Linked DNA regions of Homo sapiens. The protein of the gene in region 1 purifies or fractionates together with the protein of each later gene. This does not show direct contact. Each region holds a gene or a part of one and is shown in the gene's direction. Other genes may lie near its edges.

Region 1 (5,299 bases):
CAAAGACCTACTTAGGTGGTTTTATATTACTTGTTAGATTTATTAGTTTAGGTGCAGAGAAAGTAAAATAAATTGTAATTTCTATTCATTGCATCTATTCATCTTTTTTATATTTATAGAAGTATATGCTTTTTATCCTTTTAAATGTTTGTCTTTGTCAGTGTTTTTCCCGTTAGAGTTTACACCCTTGAGTGGGAACCATATCCATTTAATTTGCTCTTCCTGGATGCTGCTGGCTGTCTGCTCTCTCCTTTTAAAGAGAAGGATTTTCTGGGGGAGTCACAAAATGATACTGATCTCTGTCTCCAACCCAACCTAAACATGGATTGCCATGGATAAAGAGAATGGCTTACCAATTGAAAGATTGCATCATAATTGTCAAATAACATCAAATTCCTAATCAATGCAATAAATAAAACATTGTGTGGAGGAGGAGAAGAAGAAAAAGCAACAATACATGATATAATAGGAGGCAATGTAGGGAAATGGGAAGAATTCAGAATTTGCAACCAGAGGGAGCTGGGTGTGAATTCCAACTCTGCCATTTACTATTAATAACTTGTATGGCTTTGGGCAATTCACAACCTCACTGAAGACAGGTTTTTTAATTTGTAAAAATTGAAGTAGTTCTTTATACAGTTATTGTGCCAGTTAGAAATGATGTCTACACAGTGCCTGACACATTGTGGGTGTTCTATAAATAGTAGCTATTCAAAATAGTTTAAGGCAGAATTTTAAAACACTATAATATCTCCATGGCTGTTTAGCAGTAAATTCTCCATTTCCCAGCATCTCTATATATTCACCTGCTGTGGAGTTATGCCATATTGTTCAGCTCTGCTTTCTGTCAGTCTCTAGATTTTTTAAATCTCTGCATTTTTTTAGGGAGATGTTGATGTGAATTCAAAACAATTAACAACATCTCCATTGAATGAATAATGCCCTTAAATGGCAATAAAACCCATATGAAATGCTTGACTACTTAATTTCATTCTCAAATGCATTCTCAAGCTGCATCCCTTATCTCGTTGCAGCCCCAAGTATCTGCAGTGGCAAAGATCTTCCTCAGGATACATTCAGCATGTCCACGAATGTGACAACTTTTGCTTCTGTGAATGGCACGTTTTTTTCCTGTCAGATGAACTCTCCTCATATTTCCTAATATTAAATCTCTCCATAAATTTTACCAGCATTCTCTATTTTCATCCAGTATCATGGCATCAGTTCAAGAAGATTTTTCTTTTTCTGATGCTTAAAAACAGCATCTGTTAATTTAGACTAATATTCATAAAAGTTTTTTAATGTGTAAATGAAACCAAAGCCTAAAAAGTTTATGGCCAAATGAAATAATGATTAAGCGAATAAATCTGAGTTTTGTTTATATTTCTATTTGTGTTTAAAACAATTCTCTTTCATACAGCAAGTGAACTTGGGCTATGGTTCTCTGTTATGAAATTTAAAACCTGAGAAATTCAAATCTAATGGTAGAGATTGACATTCCTTTTTTTTAGATAGCCGATTTATTTTAATAAAAGAAGATTTTCTGGTTAAAAGAAATAATTTGCAATAACTATGAAGGTTTAGATAGGAACCTATTTATTAAACCACTATAATTGTCTTTTCTTGCTCTCAAATATTAGCAATGAGGCTTAAACAGTAGCATATTTGTATGCATAGGTATGTGCGCATGTGTGTAAAAAATAGAGATGATACCAGCATAGTTCTATATGCATATTTAAATACATTTCTATTTGTAACATCATCTGTAAAGAATGATCTTTTTTAAAAATGTACTAGAAATTTTAAAAATTGATATCAGTTATATATCACAGATGTTTGAAGCTGAAAGGCATTGTGGAAATGATTGTCCAACCCCTTCTGAATCACTTAGTGTTCTTTGGTCACAGACAGCAGAAATGGATTCTGACTAAATCAAGTGGAAATGATTTTATTGAAAGGTTATGGTGGAATTTAGAGGAGAACCCAGATCAGAAGAAAAAGACCAGACCCAGCCCTCTCAAATGGACGTAGTTAGCAGGAACTACGAGAGAATCTTGTCAAGATTCTTCCAGATTGATTGAGCACCAGCAACCTCCTACACCTTTATGTTGCTTGCCTCTGGTTTCAGAATTTTGGGAGAGAGACCAGTTGGCCTAATTTGGGTCAATAACCCACTCCTTGGCTAGGGAGTCCCTGAATTTCCATGCCACCAAGACTACACACAACGTGGGATTGGTTATTTCTGAAATACTTTTAGAATGTGCCTCCTGTGGACGTGGAGCTAGATGCTGGGTGGACCAAATCCAGCAAAAGCACCTTCATCTTCCAGGTGGGGAAAATGAGGCCCAGAGTGATTTTTCTGGATTTCTGACCCTGTTGTGATTAGAACTGAGACAGCCTTCTAACTGCCCTATCTAGCATTTATTTGTATCATTTATGGTCAATTTTAATTTTTATCTATTTATAATTTTCTTCATTTTGGCCCCCAAATGTTTTCTTCACTCCTAGGAAGATCGGCTGGCCGCCAGTGCATACACATACAAAGGTGGCATTGCTTGTGTGAGCAAGATTACAACCCCTTGTCCTCTCAGGCCTCCTATGTCACCCCCCAAACTGCCTTCTAGGGTAACACGTGGAGGTCCCCTCAGGCTCCTGAAACTCCAGTTATCTGAACCTTAACTCATTATCTTTCCCCAAACCTGTTCATCCTTTCGTGTTCCCCTCTTCAGCAAATTACTAATTACCCATTACCCAATCCCAAAACCTGGTTGTTATCCTTGCTCCTCCCTTTCCTTCACCCTTGATATCCTTTGAATCACCAAGTAACCCATATTTTTGTCTCCTTAAAATGTTTTGAAATCACCTACTTCTCTCTATCCTTCCAGCTTTACCCTGGTTCCACCCCCAGCACCTCTCCTTTCCACAACCACCAGTCTCCCATCTGTTCTTCCTGCTCCCGGTTTTACCCTCCTCCCCTCCCTTCTCTTGGATCAGGTGTGAATTTCTGACTCACAGACTCGAGAATGCTAAATTGAAAGTCTTTATTTTTTTATAACTTAATTTTAATTCCTGGCCCTGAGCCTTGATCCTCCCTAGTGTAAAAATCCAATCTTGTCACTCTCAGGTAAAGTCAGTCCAATTCGGCAGTTTCTCAGGTTGTTCAAGATTCTAAAACTTCTTCCCCTCACCCTATTTTCCTACACGGAAACAGCAGCGCACTACTCGGGGCTTCAGGGGAGTAGAGTTACTAGATTTAGCAAATAGAAATACAGACCATACAGTTCAGTCTGAGTTTCAAAAACAAGAAATTTTTTTTTAGAATAAGTATGTTCTGTGCAATATTTGGGGAATACTGCTAATAAAAAAATCATTCATTGTTTATCTGATGTTAAAATGTACCTGGGCATCCTACATTTTATCTGGTAACCCCCTGGGGTAACAACATTTATTTTCAGATCTTGACCTGGAACAAGCTTGTCCAACCCAGTGCCCGTGGGCCACATGCGGCCCAGGATGGCTTTGAATGTGGCCCAACACAAATTCATAAACTTTCTTAAAAAGGCTATGAGATTTTTTTGTGATTTTTTTTTTAGCTTATCAGCTATTGTTAGTGTTAGTGAATTTTATGTGTGGCCCAAGGCAATTCTTCTTCCAATGTGGCCCAGAGAAGCCAAAAGACTGGACACCTCTGACTTCTAGGACTTTGTAATTGTCACTGCATTTGTCTGGCCAGTATCCATTCCTTCCTCCATCTTTGCAGACATAGCTCTAGTTTTGCTTGGGGGCAGCAACATGCCCAAGAGCAGGCAGGGTATTTGTTTTTCCAGACTCCTTGCACCAAGGTGAGGAGTGGGGCTGTGACAGGGTTCTGGCCAATAAACAAGTGGAAATCCGCTAGTGGTTGCAGGAATGTTTCATTTTTCCCTAAAATAAGGGATGCCAGTGCCAACCCACTTTCCCTTTTCTTCCTGTCTTGAAAGTAGACCTAATGTCTGAAGCTGTAGCAGCCCTGTAGCAACCAGTAAGGGACCAGAAGGAGGGAAAGTCAAGATAACCCCAGAGACATGGTCTTGAACTTGCCAGGCTACTGAACCAAGGCCCTCAGCTGCCTGCCTTTAGGCAAGAAAATTAGAAACCTCCATTTTTCACAGCACTGTGAGACAAGTTTCTTTTACTTATAGCTGAATGCATTCCTAGCTTATGAAGTCCTTTACATGTGTCCATCTCTGATGTACTTGATCCGTCTTTGTTCTATGAGCTCTGGAAATATGCTGACCTGAACCCTTCAGGAGCTCCCCAGTATGCTCATTTCAGTTTTAGCTGTGTCTTCCTTCAGTCCCCAGTGGGCAGCCCATGAGCAGTCATTAGGATACATCTCCTTGCTATGGCCAGATGACATTGTGACAGACTTATCAGCCCTCTCCTCCCAGTAAATTCTGGGCCACACATGATGCCCACTGGAATATTAAGTCCCTTCTCCTATACCATTCATGGGCTGTGGGCAATTACAGGGTTGGTTCTGGTCCTCTTCTGCCTAGAAGTGCTATGCAGGGACTTTTGCTGCCTTTGCATGCCCTTGCGTATAGGGAGGTGGGGAGAGGGATGTTGGTAATCCTCCCTGCCTTCAATAACCCTAGATGGGAAGCAGGATATGAGTGTTTTCTACTCTTGGCTCTCACTGCATTTCACAGGATGTTGACTTTTCTACTCTCTGAGCCCCTCCATTTGACTGGAGTGAGAAAGAGAAAGAGAACATGGCCCTCCAAGCATCTCACTGCCTTTCTCCATACTTTTCTCCTCTATCGATCGCAATTGGAGGACAGGAATAAGTAACAAGCACTATTCCTTTTCTCTTCCCCATTTCAAATATATCTTATTCTCATACTAAATGTTGGCATTTGATCTTTTGACCTAGGATCCATGTGGTCTCTTTATTCTCTTTACGAACTAGTTCTGTAACAACCTGACTGCCATATAGGGGAAGGTTGCGGTTCAGCTGGGACACTTCTTCCAGATGACTTTTGTAAAATGCAGTCTCGTCATGTCAGTTCCCTGACTCTGATCTCCAATAGCTCTACCTCCCTCCCAGCTTGGAGTCCAAACTTCTCACTGTTGTTTTTACCGTAAGATCTCTTCATGATCTGGTCCCTGCCTTTTTTTCTAAACTTCCTGTCTCACCACTCTCCTGCTTGCCACTCCTCATTTGTTTGTTCTCTACCTAAGTTGATCCAATGGATAAGAAATCCTTGGTAGATGCAAGTCTAGTCACTTTGTTTTGTTTTGTTATTTGTTTGTTTTT
Region 2 (4,399 bases), on another chromosome or scaffold:
CAAAACTTCACATATTTAATTAAAAGCTATTGAAGGCCGGACGCGGTGGCTCACGCCTGTAATCCCAGCACACTGGGAGGCCGAAGCAGGCAGATCACGAGGTCAGGAGTTTGAGATCAGCCTGGCCAACATGGTGAAACCCCATCTCTACTAAAAATACAAAAATTAGCTGGGCGTGGTGGCGGGCGCCTGTAATCCCAGCTACTCGGGAGGCTGAGGCAGGAGAATCACTTGAACCTGGGAGGTGGAGATTGCAGTGAGCTGAGATCACGCCATTGTGCTCCAGCCTGGGCAACAGAGTGAGACTCCATCTCAATAAATAAATAAATATAAATAAAAGCTATTGAAAACTTATTTTGAACAAGATTTCTCCTTTTTTTTTTTCTTTTTTTTTTTGTGGGGGAGGTCAGGGGTGGTACAGAGTTTCACTTTTCTCATCCAGGCTGGAGTACAATGGCTCGATCTTGTCTCACTGCAACCTCCGCCTCCCGGGTTCAAGTGATTCTCCTGCCTCAGCCTCCCGAGTAGCTGGGACTACAGGTGTGTACCACCACACCCGTCTAATTTTTGTATTTTTGGTAGAGACGGGGTTTCACCATGTTGGCCAGGCTGGGCACGGTGGTTCACACCTGTAATCCCAGCACTTTGAGGGGCCGAGGTGGGTGGATCACCTGAGGTCAGGAGTTCAAGACCAGCCTGGCCAACATGATGAAACCCCATCTCTACTAAAAACACAAAAATTAGCTGGGCATGGTAGCGTGTGTCTGTAGTCCCAGCTACTCAGGAGGCTGAGGCAGGAGAATCGCTTAAACCGGGGAGGCAGAGGTCACAGTGAGCCGAGATTGCACCACTGCACTCCAGCCTGGGCAACAAAGTGAGACTCCATCTCAAAAAAAAAGCTTTTGAAGCAGATTTTTAAAATATCATTATAGAATCCAAAAAATATTCAGTCTTGGCCAGGCGTGGTGGCTCACACCTGTAATCCCAGCACTTTGGGAGGCCAAGGCAGGTGGATCACCTGAGGTCAGAAGTTCAGGACCAGCCTGACCAACATGGAAAAACCCCATCTCTACTAAAAGTACAAAAAATTACCTGGGCATGATGGTGCATGCCTGTAATCCCAGCTACTCGGGAGGCTGAGGTAGGAGAATTACTTGAACCTGGGAGGTGGAGGTTGTGGTGAGCCGAGATCATGCCATTGCACTCCAGCCTGGGCAACAAGAGCGAAACTCCGTCTCAAAAAAAAAAATGAAAAGAAAAAAAAGAAATATTCAGTCTTTTCGTAGCTTTTTCTCCCATTCTGCCCTGGGAGTAATTTAATAAGAGGTCCCTTTTCACAAAGGTGGCCCTAAAGGGCAGCATAACCCAGATGGAGGGGAAAACAGCTAGACATGGACACCCATCCCAACTGTGTGACCTTAGACAAATCACTATAACTTATCTTCATCTCTATTTCATCATTTATTAAGTGAGAAATAATAAGATTTTTATAAAGATCAGATGAGATATACAGTAAGTCCTCAACGTCATCAATAGGTTCCTGGTCATCAATAGGTTCCTGGAAACTACGATTTTAAGTGAAGTGTATAATGAAACCAATTTTTTTCTCATCTACGTTGTAATGAAAGGACATCGAAACAACGTTGTTGGAGGAGCTGCTCTGAATAGTTCCACTTAAAGTCAGTTTCCAAGAACCTACCAATGACGTTAAGTGAGGACTTACTTTATATACAAATTCTTTGAAAACAATCAAGCACTAATAAAGTACTAGCTCTTTTTTTTTTTTTTTTTTTTTTTTTTTTTTTTTTTTTGCCCAGGCTCTTGTTGCCCAGGCTGGAGTGCAGTGGGGAGATCTGGTCACTGCAACCTCTGCCTCCTGGGTTCAAGCAATTCTCCTGCCTCAGCCTCCCAAGTAGCTGGGATTACAGGCATGTGCCAACATACCCGGCTAATTTTTTGTATTTTTAGTAGACATGGGGTTTCACTGTGTTAGCCAGGATGGTCTCAATCTCCCGACCTCAGGTGGTCCACCCGCCTCAGCCTCCCAAAGTGCTGGGATTACAGGTGTGAGCCACCGCACCTGGCCCTACTAGCTCTTTCTTTAAGAAAAAATGAGACCCGGTGTGGTGGCTTATGCCTGTAATCTCAGCACTTTGGGAAGCTAAGTTGGGAGCATCACTTGAGCCTGGCAGTTTGAGACCAGCCCAGGCAACATGGTGAGACCCCATCTCTACAAAAAAAATTTTTTTAGTAAATAAAAATGAAAAACGATTAGAATATGTTGGTGGCCCATAAATGCTAGCTACTGTGGCATACTAGTCACTAAATATTTGCAGATTAAATCTATAACATCTTGCACTTACTTGGGGTATACTGCTTTCAGATTATAGTGAGGCTCTGATGAACCTCCTAAACAGGACATTACCTTAGGTGAGGATAAGCTTGCCTCTTCAAAATACTGCTAATAAAACAACTAAACCTAACCATGTTAATGGTTAGTATTTCTCATAATTGATTTTAAAAGGAACTTGTATTATGGCTGTATGTGTACATTTAAAAGAGGTTTTTATTTCTTTGGATTTTTTTGTTTGTTTTCTTTAAATGTGTGTGTGTGTATGTATGTATGTTTGAGACAGGGTCTTGCCCGGTCACCAAGGATGGAATGCAGTGGCATGATCATAGCTCACTGCAACCCTGAACTCTTGGGCTCAAGGAATCCTCCCACCTCAGCCTCCCAAGTAGCTGGGACTACAGGCGCACACCACCATGCCCAACTAATTTTGTTTGTTTGTTTGTTTGTTTGTTTGTTTGATAGAGACAGGGTCTTGCTTTGTGCCCAGGCTGGTCTCAAACTCCTAGGCTCAAGCAGTCCTTCTGCCTTGGCATCCCAACATGTTGGGATTAAGGCGTAAGCCACCATGCCCAACCCTTAAAATAAATTTTAAACAACATTTCAGAGTGGTGTTAGTCATTCTTGTTGCATACTCTTTAAGTCTTGATTGGGGTGGACCTAGAAGGCTTAGGGTCATTCTTCCTAAGCATCAACAAACATATTCTTTGTACTCTGAGATGTAGGGATTACACAGAGGCATAAGACATGGTCTCTTCTCCTTTGAAATTTAGAAGCTTTCACATCTTCACCCTGCTAATTCATCAATCAGTCTGTTAATGATTCCAATTTTGGAGCCACTTCCAGGCCTTTTCGCATTGCCCTCCTAACTTTTTATCTCTCCTCAAAGCATCCATTGCCCCCTGTGCTAATTCTTTTGTGACGCTACTTATAATCTACTGTGATTTTTTTGGTTGCTAGTTTATCTCCTTTACTCCTCTTTAGAGCATACACTGCATCTTTTATCTCCATTTCCCTAGTACCTGATAATGGAACTACCTCACACAGGGTACTCAGTAGATCTTGTTGGGACTCTAGAATATATGATGTGGAAGATCTAAACACTGTCTCCCAATCAAATTGTGAAATCAAGGACTATGCTGTATTTGTCTCCACTGTCTCACACAAGGCTGGCACAGAGTGAACCCTCAAAATTTTTTAATTGTATGTGCTAAGAGGCAAATATGTGGCAAATATATGTGTAATAGGTGCTACAGGAATTCAGGTTGTCAGGGCTAGGGCTATGGAAGAAATGCTGCTCTGAGGAGCTGAGATCCGGTCTGAGCCTTGAAGTAAGGACAATGTAACTAAATAAAGAGGAGAGGAGGATAGCATAGGGAGAGGTTAGAGAATTTGAGACTTTATCCTAGAAGTATTAGGAAACATCAAAGGTTTTGTAACAGTGTACCATGATAGGCATACCAGTTTTTAAAAGCTTAGTCTAGTAGTAGTGTGTAGGCTAATTTAGAGAGCAAGCAACTGGAAGCAGATATTAGATATTACTTTTTCTAAAATACTTTCCTTCATCACTGAAGTCTAGGTTGGGTCTCCACCTGAGTGCTTCCATAGCTCTTCACCTGTCATAGTGCATATACACTTGTCTTTCTCGTCGATTAAACAAAGCTGCTTAAGGGCAGTATTTTGTATCTTGTTCAGTATTATGTCTTCAGCATAATGCTGCAAGCACATAATAAATTAATGATTATTTCTAGGCCTTCCTGTAGTCTCTAAAGCTGTTATCTAAGTGTAGACTAAAAGAGGTCAATGACTTGGCCTTCTATATTCCAGATACAGATTAGGAGGTGCCGGAGGCTTAGCATAATTTACAAATACTTAAAACACTTTACCATTCAATTTGACTTGTCTCACTAAACTGTTTTTTAATTCATTGTTGCCTTTGTATCTGTAAGACCTGATTCTAGTACTTTCTCTGCAAGAGGTTGGTCAAAAAAATTTTTTGGCAGAAACCCTTCCAGAATTATAGGATTTTAGGAAAGATATCAAATTGTA
Region 3 (4,399 bases), on another chromosome or scaffold:
CTCTTCCAATGTTTGGGGCTACCTACAATATAATCTTTATTTGGGCTAGTCTGATTAGCATGTGAAATTCAGTCACCAAAAGGTAAACCATCTTTGAGATATTGCTGTGTTTCTTGTGTTCTAGCCCCAGAAGGGCAAATGATGCTGCTTGGAAAAATGAAAGTTTTTGTTCTTCTTAGATTAAGGGTTGGTAAATTGTGGCCTATGGGCCAAATGCAGCCTGCCTCCTGTTTTTGTAAATAAAGTCTTATCGGAATGCAGCCATATTTACTTATTATCTGTGGTTGTTTTCATGCTATAATGGCATAGTTTAGTTGTGGTAGAGACTGTACCACATGCAAAACCTAAAGTATTTATTATATGGCCCTTTACACAAACTTTGATGACCTCTACTTTAAGTAAACCTGGGTGCCATAAGCTGAGTAGAGAGTAACCAGTTTGGGCTTGTAGGACCTGGAGAGAGTTAACTGGATTTTTTTCTTTTCTTTCTTTTTTTGAGATGGAGTCTCGCTCTGTTGCCCAGGCTGGAGTGCAGTGGCACAATCTCGGCTGACTACTGCAACCTCTGCCTCCGAGGTTCAAGCTATTCTCCTGCTTCAGCCTCCCAAGTAGCTGGGATTACAGGCGCTCGCCACCACACCCAGCTAACTTTTATATTTTTAGTAGAGACAGGGTTTTACCATGTTGGCCAAGCTGGTCTCGAACTCCTGACCTCGAGTGATCCGCCTGCCTCGGCCTCTCAGAGTGCTGGGATTACAGGCGTGAGCCACCGCACCCGGCCTGGATTTCTTCTTTAAAGTCACTTTTTTCTTGTTGGCATTTTTTTAAAAACTCCCTCTCAACATAGCAGTGGAAGGTGCCATTTTCAATCCCCTCTTGTTATGATTAAGCTCACACTTAATGTCCCCAGCTCATTGTTCCTTTTTGTTATCCAAGGTCTCTGAAAAGAGAACCAGCAGCCCATGTAACCTGCGTAGCTCCTCAGCATGCTGTTTTACGTAGTTACTGTGGCCACAGCCACCCACCTCTACCTAAGAGGCTTGTGGGCAGATTGTTGTCAAAGGGAACGTCAACCAAGATTAGCCAGCAGGGCTGGGCATTGTAAGCCATCAAAGACCTTTTATCGATTGAAATACAAAATGCAACTTGTTTAGAAAATTGAGGTCTGGCATTTTTTTGAGAAAAGGAGGCTTTGGGGAGAGACCATAATCTGTAGAAATCAGGGTCTTGGGTGGAGGGGTAATCAGTTGTGACTCTGTTGCAGCTCCGGTGACCAATCAGCCAGTGACCCCCAAGGCCCTCACTGCAGGGCAGAACCGACCCCACCCGCCGCACATCCCCAGCCATTTTCCTGAGTTCCCTGATCCCCACACCTACATCAAAACTCCGGTGAGTGATGAAGCACTGGGACTGCGCGTGGTGTAAAGCACGGAGTCAGTTCCTACTGACTGTCACGTGGCAGAGTCCAGTCCAAAAGCTTGTTGATGAAAGAGTGGTTCAAAACTCAGAATGTGGCCGGGCACATTGGCTCACACCTGTAATCCCAGCATTTTAGGAGGCCGAGGCAGGAGGATCACTTGAGCCTGGGAGTTCAAGACCAGCCTGGGCAGCAGAGCAAGACCCTGTCTCATTTGAAAAATAAATAAATAAAGAAAAAAAAAAGAATTCAGATTATCTTTCATAATTGAGAAACAATTTGGCAAATGAGAATTATGTTCTCAAGTTTGCCAGCTAAAGTATAATTAACAAAGAAATTGAAGCTGGCCCCAGTATTGCCTGTCCTACTAAAACACAAAAGTACATAGCCGCATAGGAACAAGACTGAAAAGGTATTCCACTAAATGTTCATAGTAATTTTGGGTTGAGATTATAGGTCATTTTGTTTTGTGTTTACTTTTCTGAGTTTTCCAAATTTTCCATAATAGGAAAATTATTTTTTCAATTGGGGGAAAAGTTACTTTAAAAATATTTAGTAATGGCCGGGAGCAGTGGCTCATACCTTTAATCCCAACACTTTGGAAGGCCGAGGCAGATGGATCACCTGAGGTCAGGAATTCAAGACCAGCCTGGCCAACACAGTGAAACCCCATCTCTACTAAAATTACAAAAATTAGCTGTGCGTGGTGGCACATACCTGTAGTTCCAGCTACTCAGGAGGCTGAGGCAGGAGAATCTAACCTGGGAGACAGAGGTTGCAGTGAGCTGAGATTGCGCCACTGCACTCCAGCCTAGGCGACAGAGCAAGACTCTGTCTCAAAAAGAAATAAATAAAAATTAGTAATGATAATGAAATGGAACTTATCACTCTGAGCTCTAGGTCTGAATGAGGAGAAGATGAATTATCCTCTGTGGTTTGAATGTGTTCTAATTTGCCTGAATGGCAGTTTTACCTTCCGTTGGGAAGGTGCCCTCCCACACTTCCTTTGCTTCTGCCTGCATACCATATAGTGATGGCAAGCCCTCACGTCCTCTGGGCATTTTTCCATACCTTAGGGTGGGGGAGAGGGAATAGTAGCTGCCCAGCTAATGCAACATAGCCCTTGCCCTTGCCCTTGGTCAGATCTCTCTATTAGTTTCCTGGGCTGCTGTAACAAAATGCCACAAACCAGGTGACTTAGAACAACAGAAATTTATTGTCTCACAGTTCTGGAGGCTAGAAGTCTAAAAGCAAGGTGTCATGCTCCCTCTGAAACCTGTAGGGGAGTCCCTCCTTGCCTCTTCCTAGCTTCTGGTGGTTGGCCAGCATTCTTTGGCATTTCTTGGCTCATAGATGCATCACTCCAGCTTTCTGTCTTCACATGGCATTCTTTTTTGTGTGTGGTTGGGGGGCAGAGGGGGAGACTGGAGTTTTATTATTACTCAAATCAGTCTTCCCCAGCATTCGGGGAGCAGAGTTTTTAAGGATAATGTGGTAGGTCGGGGGAAGCCAGTGAGCCAGGAGTGCTGATTGGTCAGAGATGAAACCATAGGGACTCAGGGCCGGGCAAGGTGGCTCACGCCTGTAATCCCAGCACTTTGGGAGGCCGAGGTGGGGGGATCATGAGGTCAGGAGATCGAGACCATCCTGGCCAACATGGTGAAACCCCGTCTTTACTAAAAATACAAAAAATCAGCCGGGCATGGTGGCGGGCACCTGTAGTCCTAGCTACTTGGGAGGCTGAGGCAGGAGAATAGTGTGAACCCGGGAGGCAGAGCTTGCAGTGAGCCGTGATTGCACCATTGCACTCCAGCCTGGGCGACAGAGCGAGACTTTGTCTCAAGAAAAAAAAAAAAAAAGAAATCATAGGGACTCAGAGCTGTCTTCTTGCACTGAGTCAGTTCCTGGGTGGGGGCCACAAGATCAGATGAGCCAGTTTATTGATCTGGGTGGTGCCAGCTGATCCATCAAGTGCAAGGTGTCTCAACACTGATCTTAGGAACAGTATAGGGAGGGTCAGAATCTTGTAGCCTCCAGCTGCATGACTTCTAAACCATAATTTCCAATCTTGTGGCTAATGTTAGTCCTACAAAGGCAATCTAGTCTCCAGGCAAGATGGAGGTCTTCTTTGGGAAAAGGAGTGTCACTGTCTTTGTTTAAACTCTAAACTAAGTTTCTCCCAAAGTTAGTTTAGCCTCCGCCCAGGAATGAACAAGGACAGCTTGGAGGTTAGAAGCAAGATGGAGTCAGTTAAGTTAGATCTCTTTCACCGTCTCAGTCATAATTTTGCAAACGTGGTTTCAGTCCTTCCCTTTGGGTTTTATAACACCTTAATCTTAAGGTGTAGGCTGTGAAGATGGGAAAAGGCTATCAATTGCTCTGGCTTCTTCCTGCTGACAGGGCACATTATGGGAATGGGAGTGAACCCGAAGGTGAGAAGAGTGGAACTGGTTTGCAACTGTCTGAGTGTACTCATGCAGGCCTGGCTAGGCGTTCATGGCTTGCATGGCACAAACATTAGTACTCTGTAGTTTTACTACAGTGTTTAAGTGAAACAGCCCACTATAAGGTAAATAACGAGTCCTAGGATGAGGAGTACAATTCCCAATTTTAAAAGCAAAGATTTGGAAGCACTAGTTTGGGGACTTCTAACCCACAAAGACTTTAGAATTTAGTCTAAACTGCAGAAAAAACCTCAAGAACAGCTAACAACAGTGTACTATAGTTTTTCTTTTGAAGCATAATTTTTCTCTCTCCAGTCCCCATTTTTATTAAAAACAAATCATGATACAACTGATTTGTTTACAAAATAAACTTTAGTCTTACTGTACTTGGCCCGATTATTTGCATAAAGTGCAGCAAGAATAATTATTTTTCACTTAGACTTTTTAAATTGGCTTTGATAGAACTCTGTTCCATGAAGAATCTCAGATAAGACTTTTTAAAAGCCGAGCCCAGCCATGGGTTTGTACCCTCAAATAC
Region 4 (4,399 bases), on another chromosome or scaffold:
GACGATGAGTCGGCCTCCTTCACTGTCACCGTCACAGGTGTGGGCCCAGCCCAGCTCCCCGGGGTCACAGAGACAGCCCTGAGCCCTGGAGGAGCTGGCCACATAGCCCCAGCTAGCACCCCGGGGAGGAGGGAGGTGTGGGCTGCAGGTGCATGTGCCAGGGTTCTTGCTGAGATGAGCCCAGGGCCCCTATTCAAGGAAACAAGCCCCTCCCCGGTGCCCAAGGCCAGGCCTAGCTCTGCTCCACAGCTCATTTACTGAGCACTTTCCCTGAATCAGGCACTGGGAGTAGCAGGTGAGTAATGCAAATACGGTCCCTATTCTGAATGAGCTGCCAGGCTAGGTGAGGAGGCAGCTGTTAACCAGGGGTCGCAAACGGGTAGTCCTGGGGCCCTGCGCATTCCACACATGTGCTTTGTTTGGTCTGCAGAGTCTTACCAAAGTCAGGACAGTTCAAATAACAATCCGGAGTTATGCGTCCTCTTGAAAAAGCCGAAGACCCGGCGGCTCTGGTCCCGCTTCCCCCCATGGCGACGAACAGCTGGCACTGAGTAGCAGCTGCCCCCATAGTTTGGGGCCCACATTCCTCTGTCCCACCTCCCTGCCATTGCTTTTTGCCTCTCCCCAGACTGCTTCAGCCGCTAACCTAACCTGGCCCCTGTGGGCATTTGAGTTTGCGACCCCTGTGTTAAACCAATAAACATGCAAATAAATGTACAGTGACACCTGGTGATAAGTACTGTGAGGGCCAAGGGCAGAGGGCTCAAGAGCACAGAGCAGGAGGGTCAGGGAGGCCTGGGAGAAAGTCACCCTTCCACACACGGGAGCCAGCAGCACGCAGACACGGCCGCTTCCCTCTAGGACTGCACAGCCTGGCAGGAAAGCCAGACGCATTCCAGGATCTTAGAGCATGGGTTGTTGAGGGCCAGTCTAGGGACCCTGGGGCTGGGAGCCACCACCCTGGCCAGGCAACAGGAAGTGCTTTCAAAGCTGATACTGGAGCTAAGTGGGGTGGGGTGTGGGGGAATATTCAAAGCGGGAGAAGCACAGGACAACTGTGGAAGTGACGGAGGTTCAGTGCCGGAGACCTCGGGGTGACGGCTCACAGCGCCCAGCCCAGTGTGTGTCTGGGGCTGGGGGTCCATAGGGCTAGGCAGCTCTGGGGGGCACAGAACCCCAGTGGCTGCACTGGAGCCCCCATCCTACTGCGGCCACAGTCCTGTCCTCTCCCAGCCCTGCCCTGAAAGTCACGCCCCATGCAGAGCTGTTTAGGGCCCCCCTGCTCCTTGCACCCCAGCTAATGCACTCTACACACACAAGCCCACAATGCCTAAGAGGCCTTCTGCACATATTCTGCCCTGTCGTAATCATCTTCACCCTCTCCCACCCAGCCATGGCCAGACAGAATGGCCACAGCCACACAAACTCCAGCCCATGCTCAGGCTCCCCACAAACACCAGTCTCTTCACAGGGAAGTTCACACAAACACCACCTCTGCTCTAGGCCAGAGCGAATCAAGTCTGACACCAAGCTGAGGTCCCGGGGCTGGGCAGCCACCCGGTCCCATCACTGCACCCTGTCCTCACCCCACTGCCCTCATCACCTTCCCCACTCCTCAGGCAGCTGCATTCTGGTCTCTCCTGGCCTTGCTCGGCCCCAGAGGACCAGCCTGCATCCCCCAGACCCTTAGAGCAAGCAAGCCCATGGGGGAGGTGGGTTGTGTGGCTCAAGGCAGGAGTCTCCGTGGAGGCTGGGGGGCTGAGTGGGAGCTTGTGGTTACCTCGGCCCATGCATGCCCCTATAAACCACCCCCAGCCCCCACCCCCCCAACCCTGGCCCCTGATTGGGAAGCTAGCAGTTCCTCAGCCCAGCCACCAGGGGGCCAGAGGCTAATGGAGCAGTAGTCGCCCCAAAACTTGAAGATTCTGGGGGGACCTGGGGGCAGCAGGGGTGTGGGCAGGCCTGGGCTCCATGCGCTGGTCACCTCTAATATTGACATGGTTCCCTTTCTGCAGAGGAGTGACCAGAACTTGGAGATGAGCTCCCAGAATCAGCATTTAGCACCCCTGGGGAACTCTCAGACAGACGTTGAATGCAAAAAGCATTACTGAGTTCCTGCAAGCCTTGGCTTGGAATTCCTGCCACTACCTGTGGGGTCTGAGCCTCCCTTTAACAGAGGGTATTTCCTCCTCCTGCCCCAGAGTGGGTGTAGCCAGCTGTGACCTTAAGGAAGTTGTATAATCACTCTGTGCCCAGTCCCTTATATGGAAAATGGGGACAAAACACTACCTTCCTCTTAGGATTGCCGTGAGAGTTAAATGTTTCAAGTGCTTGGGACTGTTCCTGGACCTTAGGAAGTGTCATATCAATGTTTGCTATTGTAGATCCACCATCCCTTATCCATGGTTCCAAAATTCCAAAACTCTCAAAATCAAAAGGCTTTTTGTAAGTTTTGTATTCCAAGTCATTTCAGGAAAACCTGAGCTTGATTGCTCTGAAGCTATTTCTATGCTTTAATTATCCTGCTGAGGGTGAATATAGCTATAGCTGTATATCTATAAGATATGAGTGTCTTATAGATATATGCTTGTATCTGTAAGATTCTGTATCTTTCAATCTATCCTGCTTAGGGTGAATGTAGTATGTGTTATACCACAGACATGTTAACGTGACCGATGAAGGGGGAGGCTCCCGTGGGGGCTGAGGAAGGTATGTGATAGATGAGAAACGCATCATTTCTGGAATCCAAAGCATTCTGGATTCTGTAACACCCTCTGGCCCCAGGGATTTCAGAGAACAAACTGTGGACCTATTATTGCTTATTATTATTTTACTTATTATTCTCATTATTATGTGGGTGATAGGGACTTCATGCTGCCGAATGGCTCCAGAGAGGCTGACGGTGAGCTTGTGACAGGCTGTGGTTGTCCCCACCCTGCAGAACCCCCAGTGCGGATCATATACCCTCGCGATGAGGTGACCTTGATCGCCGTGACCTTGGAGTGTGTGGTGCTGATGTGTGAACTGTCTCGGGAGGATGCCCCTGTGCGCTGGTACAAGGATGGGCTGGAAGTGGAGGAGAGCGAGGCCCTGGTGCTGGAGAGGGATGGGCCACGCTGCCGCCTGGTGCTACCTGCTGCTCAGCCCGAGGACGGGGGCGAGTTTGTATGTGATGCTGGAGATGACTCGGCCTTCTTCACTGTCACTGTCACAGGTGGGCAGTCTCTGCAGCACAGAGAGGAGGTAGAGAGGTAGGGGGCTAAGGGACAGACACCCACCTAGCCCCACCTCCCCCACCCCATCCCCAGCCTTCCCCTTATCCAGCTTCCTCATGTTTGGCCATCAGAATCCTGCTTAGCCACATCAGGTCAGGACCAGAGGCCTGGTGGGAGGGTGCCCAGCAATTAGAACCATTCGTTCATTCATCCATTCGTTCAATACTCATTGAGCAACTACTATGTGCTTGGCACTGTTTTAGATGCTGGGGATACAGCAGTGAACCAATAAGACTAAACCTCTTGTCTTCACAGAGTTTAAACTCTGGTGAGGGTGGACAGACAAAAAATAAAAGAGATGGTTTGTCAGGTGGTAACAAGTGCATCAGAGGCAAGGCAGGGAAAGGGGATAGGAAGTGGGGATGGGTGTGGAGTGGGGTGTGTAGATCTGGGTGTGAGTCTAGATCTGCCTCTTTCTGTCTGTGTGACCTTAGGCAAGTCAGTTTCTTCTAAAGAGGCCTCAGGTCCTCAGCCATGAAGTGCAGCCAGCAGCTGTGCACCTCTTGAGGGTGGTCAGAGTAACTGATTGAAAAAACACAGGGTTCTTAGGACAGTGCCTGGCACACAGCAGCTGCTCCATGGACTGCAGCTGGCACTGTTCTCAAGAGCTGTGCTGCCAGTGGGGAGGGCTGAGGATCTGGCGGGTGAGGCAGGAGAGGCCTGCTGGCCAAGCCTATGTGCCCCTCTCCATGCCCACCCACCAGCCCCACCAGAGAGGATTGTGCACCCGGCAGCCCGCTCCCTGGATCTGCATTTTGGGGCTCCAGGGCGCGTGGAGCTGCGCTGTGAGGTGGCCCCAGCTGGGTCTCAGGTGCGCTGGTACAAGGACGGGCTGGAAGTGGAGGCATCAGATGCCCTGCAGCTGGGTGCCGAGGGGCCCACCCGCACCCTGACCCTGCCCCACGCCCAGCCTGAGGACGCCGGGGAGTATGTGTGTGAGACCCGGCATGAGGCCATCACCTTCAATGTCATCCTGGCTGGTGGGTGCTCCTGGCCAACCCAGGGCAGGGAGGCAAGGGCAAGCATGGGATGACACCTTCCTCTCTTCTCCAGAGCCTCCAGTGCAGTTCCTTGCTCTAGAGACAACTCCAAGCCCGCTCTGTGTGGCCCCTGGGGAGCCAGTG

What was found. The genes of interacting proteins can lie anywhere in the genome.
Region 2: the proteins of TTC29 (region 1) and IKBIP purify together in Homo sapiens (affinity purification with mass spectrometry; 2 studies listed by BioGRID and IntAct, with this or other methods). This does not show direct contact.
Region 3: the proteins of TTC29 (region 1) and TAF8 purify together in Homo sapiens (affinity purification with mass spectrometry; 2 studies listed by BioGRID and IntAct, with this or other methods). This does not show direct contact.
Region 4: the proteins of TTC29 (region 1) and OBSL1 purify together in Homo sapiens (affinity purification with mass spectrometry; 3 studies listed by BioGRID and IntAct, with this or other methods). This does not show direct contact.

The regions. Positions count from the first base shown.
Region 1 is NC_000004.12:146,910,398-146,915,696, reverse strand, and holds part of TTC29 (tetratricopeptide repeat protein 29), read left to right. Parts: intron 1-5,299. UniProt on the Homo sapiens protein: Axonemal protein which is implicated in axonemal and/or peri-axonemal structure assembly and regulates flagellum assembly and beating and therefore sperm motility.
Region 2 is NC_000012.12:98,627,789-98,632,187, reverse strand, and holds part of IKBIP (inhibitor of nuclear factor kappa-B kinase-interacting protein), read left to right. Parts: intron 1-4,399. UniProt on the Homo sapiens protein: Target of p53/TP53 with pro-apoptotic function.
Region 3 is NC_000006.12:42,056,125-42,060,523, forward strand, and holds part of TAF8 (transcription initiation factor TFIID subunit 8), read left to right. Parts: intron 1-1,264; coding exon 1,265-1,389; intron 1,390-4,399. UniProt on the Homo sapiens protein: The TFIID basal transcription factor complex plays a major role in the initiation of RNA polymerase II (Pol II)-dependent transcription.
Region 4 is NC_000002.12:219,558,040-219,562,438, reverse strand, and holds part of OBSL1 (obscurin-like protein 1 isoform 1 precursor), read left to right. Parts: coding exon 1-37; intron 38-430; coding exon of another isoform or gene 431-555; exon of another isoform or gene 556-717; intron 718-2,941; coding exon 2,942-3,214; intron 3,215-3,979; coding exon 3,980-4,255; intron 4,256-4,328; coding exon 4,329-4,399. UniProt on the Homo sapiens protein: Core component of the 3M complex, a complex required to regulate microtubule dynamics and genome integrity. It is unclear how the 3M complex regulates microtubules, it could act by controlling the level of a microtubule stabilizer.